Linked DNA regions of Homo sapiens: region 1 is linked to region 2. Evidence: fine-mapped expression QTL. A gene starts in region 2. The other region holds a variant in brackets. All regions are shown on one strand. Distances are from middle to middle. Region 1 overlaps MYO1D (myosin ID). Region 2 holds the start of ZNF207 (zinc finger protein 207).

Region 1 (2,914 bases), 160 kb after region 2:
GTCATTCTCACCCACCCCAAACGCCTTAAGATTTCTTTCTTTCTTTTTTTTTTTTTTGTAGACAGGATCTTGCTCTGTTGCCCAGGCTGGAGTATAGGGTGTGAGCATGGCTCACTGCAGCCTTCTGGGACTACAGGCATACACCACCATGCTAATTAAAAAAATTTTTTTGGCCGGGCATGGTGGCTCATGTCTGTAATCCCAGCACTTTGGGAGGTTGAGGCGGGTAGATCATGAGGTCAGGAGTTCAAGACCAGCCTGGCCAAGATAGTGAAACTCCGTCTCTACTAAAAATACAAAAATTGGCCAGGCATAGTGGCATGTGCCTGTAATCCTAGTTACTCGGGAGGCTGAGGCAGGGAGCTGCTTAAATCCACAGGTAGAGATTGTAGTCAGCTGAGATTGTGCCACTGCACTCCAGCCTGGGCGACAGAGCAAGACTTTGTCTCAAAAAAAAAAAAAAAAAAAAAAAAAAAAAAAATCGTAGAGACAGGGTTTTCCTATGTTGCCCTGGCTGGTCTTGAACTCCTGGGCTCAAGCCATCCTTCCACACTGGCTTCCCGAAGTGCTGGGATTACAGGTGTAAGCCACCGCGGATGCCCAAGATTTCTATCTTTTTATTCAATGTTAGTCTTTTATTTAAAAAATATTTTTCACACTATTATTTCCAGCAATCTTTATCTGAAAATGTCCAAACTTTAAAAAACACTATTCTTAGAAGCAATAGTGCAAATTATAAAGGGGAAAGGAGGGAAAGTCTAATCCTTGCTTTGCAAATAGCAGGTCACACTCTCCAAAATCGTGGTGACCTATAAAAATTTGGAAACTAGTCAATGTCCAACAACAATGGGTAAATTATAGTTAGTTTGAATCACGATGAGGGGCTGTTAGTACATCACATTGCTTGCTGAGCTTGAAAAAAGGGATTTTTCTCAGATACTGATCGTTCTTTTAGAAGTTTAGTTATAACACATCCGGGAGTCAGACATTCCAGCTGGCAGCAGCAGCAGGAAAGAGATGCGGACAGGGGCCTTCCAGGTTCCCTGTATTTCTAGGAATGTTGCTTAATCAAAAGAGGAGACAATGGAGGCATAGTGGGAAGAATACAAGGTTTGGAATCAATAGTTTAGGGTTCAAATCTAGCTGTCTGGCTCTGGGCAGTTACTTAATCCTTTTAAACTCAGTTTCCTTAACTGGGATAATGAACAGGGATAATGTTCTTTTTTCTAGAGAGTTAAAGGAGAAAATATATGCACAGTGGCTAGTGCCATGCCTGGCATCGAGTAA[G/C]TGCCCCATTAATGTTTGTTAATGGAGTAAGCGCTTGAATGGAGGAGGCTGTTAGAGTGGAATGCTGGTTAGACGAATGAAACCAGGGCTGAAAGGACCTTTGCCCAGCCTCTCAAGGCCTCTGTCCCTGACCACGGATATTCCCCTAAGAAGCAACTATGCCACCTTCCAGGGCAAAAAGGCTTGTCGATTCCAGAAGGACTTTTTAACTTGTTATTCAGTATTTTTAAATTCCCTCCTCCTGTCTTTTCTTTGACATAGAGTCTCGCCCAGTCCCCCAGCCATGGCCTACTGCAGTCTTCACCTCCTGGTGAAGTCATCTTCCTGCCTTAGCCTCCTATATAGCTGGGACCACAAGTATGTGCCTCCATGCCCGGCTAATTTTTTGATTTTTTGTAGAGACAGGGTCTCGCTTTGTTGCCCAGGCTTGTCTTAAACTCCTAGGCTCAAGCAATCCTCTTGCCTCAGCCTCCCAAAGTGTTGGTATTACAGGTGTGAGCCACTGTGCCCAGCCTTAAATCCCATTTTTAAGGACAAAGGATAATGCTTTCTTCTTGGGGCTGACGACATAGTTCTTTTTGGATATTTTCCATCACACTGTCACTGAACCTTGCTCCCATCCAGGCAACTATAATCCACAGTGAAGAATATTTGATTAAGTAGCAGGTGGTGGGGGATTTTTGTTCTGAGGGGAATTCAAAGAAGTTAAAACAGAGGCAGCTATCTCATAAACCAAGCCCAGAACACGGAGATGAAAAGAAACAAATTGCCCACTTTCTACCACCTGTTTGAGAACAGAAAGATTTACACTCACTTATGTCAGCTAAAAAAATGTACCCTTGTCTCATTGCGGTAAAAGAGCCTCCACTGCTCAGATGCTTCTGATGGAAAGTCTACCCCCTGCTCCGATACACACTTTCATGCTGGTAATGACAGAGGCAAAGCAGGCCTTTCTATCAATATGTTCTGCACACTTCCTAGCAGCTTTGCTTTTTCTATTCTGCATTTGCTATTTTAAGCGAGTACATAATGCATCAATTTTCAGACTCTTACTCAATGCCATTGCTACAGAACTGAGAACTCAGTAATCTTGTCAGGCAGAGCAGAACAATATTCCAACAGATGAAACATTCCATGCAGCCTTATTTCCCTTTTCCTGGGATGGGGCATCTATTTCTGGCCTATAATGAGAGATGAACCAGTGGCCATGGTCCAGTGCCTCTTGCCCTGGAATCCCACATCACAGAAACCACTCACCATGCTGCTGCTGGTAGACACATGAAAGGCCCTGTGGGGGTCTCAAGTTCATTTGACTGCTCTCTTATTTTTTATTTTAAGTTCCCAGAAATGGGTTGTTTTGATCCAGGCTGGAGCTTGCTGGCTGGGAAAGTGTGGGTTCTCTCAGGCCACATTTCCCCTTTTCCTGCCTGCCATGAAGAGTCCCCATTTTCTCTGGAATCACCAATTGGATTTGAGAGCCCCAGAGGAACCTTTGTCTCCCTGCCCCCAGTCTCGTAGAAGATTTAAATGTGAAGTGTCTCCACATGGCTTCTTGCCAAATTTGGCTTGCCCTTGAGCGCAGACACACTTCCAATAGAAGGCCAATTGCATCTGATACCTCAGTGGG
Region 2 (2,914 bases):
TTTGTATTTTTAGTAGAGACAGGGTTTCACCATGTCGGCCAGGCTGGTCTCGAACTCCTGACCTCAAGTGATCCGCCTGCCTCGGCCTTGGCCCATAGTGTTGGGATTACTGGCGTGAGCAACCGCGCCCGGCTATCAGCTCCAGTCTTACCACGATTAGTTTTTCACGTGCCCAGCCTCAAAGACTTAAACTCTTTGCTCCCTTACGGAGATACCCTTTCCTTCACCTTGCTTGCTCCCGTTGACTCCTCAAGAAACCTTTCTTATGTCGGGCGCAGCGGCTCAAGCCTGCAATCCAGCACTTTGGGAGGCCGAGGCGGGCGGATCACTTGAGCCCAGGAGTTCGAGACCAGCCTCGCTAACATGGTGAAACCCCATTCTACTAAAAATACAAAAATTAGCCGGGCTTGGTGGCGCGGGCCTGCAGTCCCAGCTACTCGGGAGGCTGAGGTAGGAGAATCGCTTGAACCCGGGAGACGGAGGTTGCAGTGAGCAGAGATCGCGCCGCTGCACTCCAGCCTGGGAGACAGAGCGAGACTTGGTCTCAGAAAAATAAAACAAAACAAAGAAAAACAAAACTTTACTTGACAACCCAACGACCACTACCACTACAGCCGCCCTAGGACTCCCGCTCTCTGAGGTCCTACAGCACTTCGCATTTCCCTCAACGCCGCACTGAGAACTCTGCATTGTGTACTCGTCTGTCACCAATCTGCGAGTTACAAAGCAGAGACTAACTTATTTGGTTTAGCATTTAATAGGCACATAATCAACATTTACTGTTCAATTGAAACAAAATTAAAATTGGGCGCTGTCTCTATCTTTATTTGTGATCGGCCCTAACTGCACTGGCAATCTTTTCCGTTTTTTTGTTTTCTGTTTTCCATTCGCATGCCCCTTAGCGTACCTGGGGCTCCGGCTCCTTTACAAATGAAACCCAAAGTGCTCCGCAAGCACAGCCAGCGAAAGCGAAAAACTCTGAAACGGACAAGATGGCTGCCACCTCTTCGCGCCTCTTAGTCCCACCCACTCAGGGCGGAGGTCTGCGTCATGTGACCCTCCCCTTCTTGGCTCCGCCTCCTACCGCAGTGCTTGACGGGAGGCGGAGCGGGGAACGAGGCCGTCGGCCATTTTGTGTCTGCTTCCTGTGGGACGTGGTGGTAGCCGTTGGGTTGGGAAAGTGAGGGATTTTTGGCCTCGTTTCTCCTGCTTCTTTTCTCCTCCCTTTTACTTTGCCGGTAGAACACAGTTATGGGTCGCAAGAAGAAGAAGCAGCTGAAGCCGTGGTGCTGGTATCCTTTGTCGGTTTGAAGTCGAGGTCGCGTTGGGGTGCCGGTTGTTGGGGCCTGGGACTAGGAGGCCTGGATTTGGCTTACGGCGTGGAGCGTTTGTATTTAGGCGTCTGCGTGGGTGGCCTGGTGGCTGGGATTGGACTTGGGAAGGCTTCTAGGAAAATGGGGTTCCGAGGTCGACAGGCTTTTGCAGTTGTGGGTCGTGTGACTCTGTGACTCAGGAGGATCTTGTTCGGTGCGAATTTTGGACTCCGGGAGGCGGCCTGGACCCCTCCGCCAGGGACAGTGTCCCCTAGGGACTATTCAGCCACCTTCCGTTGTTTTGGTGACGATTCAACAAGGGACTTTTCTTCGAGTGCGATAGGCTTATTACTTTCATGGAGGGTTGGGGACAGCTTCACAGTCTGTCACCCACTTTTTCTGTTTTTATTTACTTTATGTGTGTTTTGTGTTTATTTTTTCGAATTGGCGGTTTAGTAAAGAACCAAGTTAGTCAACCCTGGTTTCGAACCTTTTTTTTTTTTTTTTTCTTTTCGGGGCGGGAGGAGAACTAGCTTCCGTGTCTCACCCAGAGGCGCCTTAATCTTCAGGAAGCGTTCTCACAGGGCGGAGTTTCTGTTACCCAACTTTGTAGGACTAAAAAGTGCCTATCTTATTAGGAAAACTCTTACTACAGTGTGGTATTAATGCTTTTTCTGGAAGCGTTAATATTCTTTACATTAAAATTGATTTTATTTACTGTTTTGTACGTAAAGGCGGCTTGTTACAGTACTGCGTTTATGTAACAGTTTTAAAAATAGCTTAAATACGGTTACGAATTTTGTAATGTGATTTTAGGAAAATCTGAGTAGTGAGGTAAGAATTCTGTTTTATTGATGTAAGAATTCTGCTTTATTGATTTTATTGATCTGTGAATTTAAATACATTGCTTGGCAACATAAATTCATACGGAATTGGAAACAACTTTATGGATTGTTCATTCGAAATTATGTGATTATTGTTCACCATATAGTTACTCTTAGATTCTAAATATTGCTAAATTCCTAATCCAGTTATTGCTATCGTCTTCATATCTAGTGAAGTAATTGTCTTGACAGAACCTTAGGGATTTCTTAACTGAACTCTTTCCTGTCCTCAGTGTGCATTTGTAAATGTTGAAATATTTATAACAAAAGTTTCACCGACATCTCTGTTAAACACAGGAATTTGACAAAGTATATTGCTGATTATTGAGATGTGTTTTTTGGGGTGGTGAAGAGAGCTGGCCTTCTAGGAAATTGAAAATACTGAAATAACATGGCAAGTGTAGTCCCTAATTGTGTAATAAATATAAAAAGCAGAGTTTCTATACAGTACCATTTTGGTTTTAGCTGTTCCCATATTGTAATGTTATCCATATGTTTTTATTATAGGCAGTGTCATCATTAGGCTGTCTTTGTGCCTTAACAGTATTGATCAGGTATTGTAATAGAGATTTTGATGATGAGAAGATCCTTATTCAGCACCAAAAAGCAAAGCATTTTAAATGCCATATATGTCACAAGAAATTGTATACAGGACCTGGCTTAGCTATTCATTGCATGCAGGTAAGGATTTTTCTTCTGTATTTATTGTCCGCTTGT

What was found. PIP is the estimated chance that this variant, and not a neighbour inherited with it, causes the effect.
Region 1: its variant is the best candidate, but not a certain one, in a credible set for the expression of ZNF207 in whole blood (TOPMed, PIP 0.74).

What each region holds. Positions count from the first base shown.
Region 1 is chr17:32,513,791-32,516,704 of GRCh38, forward strand. All of the region lies in intron 21 of MYO1D (myosin ID), which reads right to left. All of the region lies in intron 1 of LOC105371734 (a long non-coding RNA gene), which reads right to left. Among named protein-coding and RNA genes, the nearest start is that of CDK5R1, 28 kb to the left of the region's middle. RefSeq lists enhancers at 1,524-1,573, 2,454-2,623, 2,694-2,743. The variant G/C (reference allele first, on the strand shown) is at 1,288.
Region 2 is chr17:32,349,035-32,351,948 of GRCh38, forward strand. It overlaps ZNF207 (zinc finger protein 207), which reads left to right and starts at 1,123. Exons shown (of 12, transcript NM_001098507.2): 1 at 1,123-1,292; 2 at 2,752-2,878. The coding sequence starts at 1,252. MIR632 (microRNA 632) reads left to right here and starts at 1,075; the gene lies at 1,075-1,168. It also overlaps a transcript of C17orf75 not described here. RefSeq lists enhancers at 573-692, 863-1,212.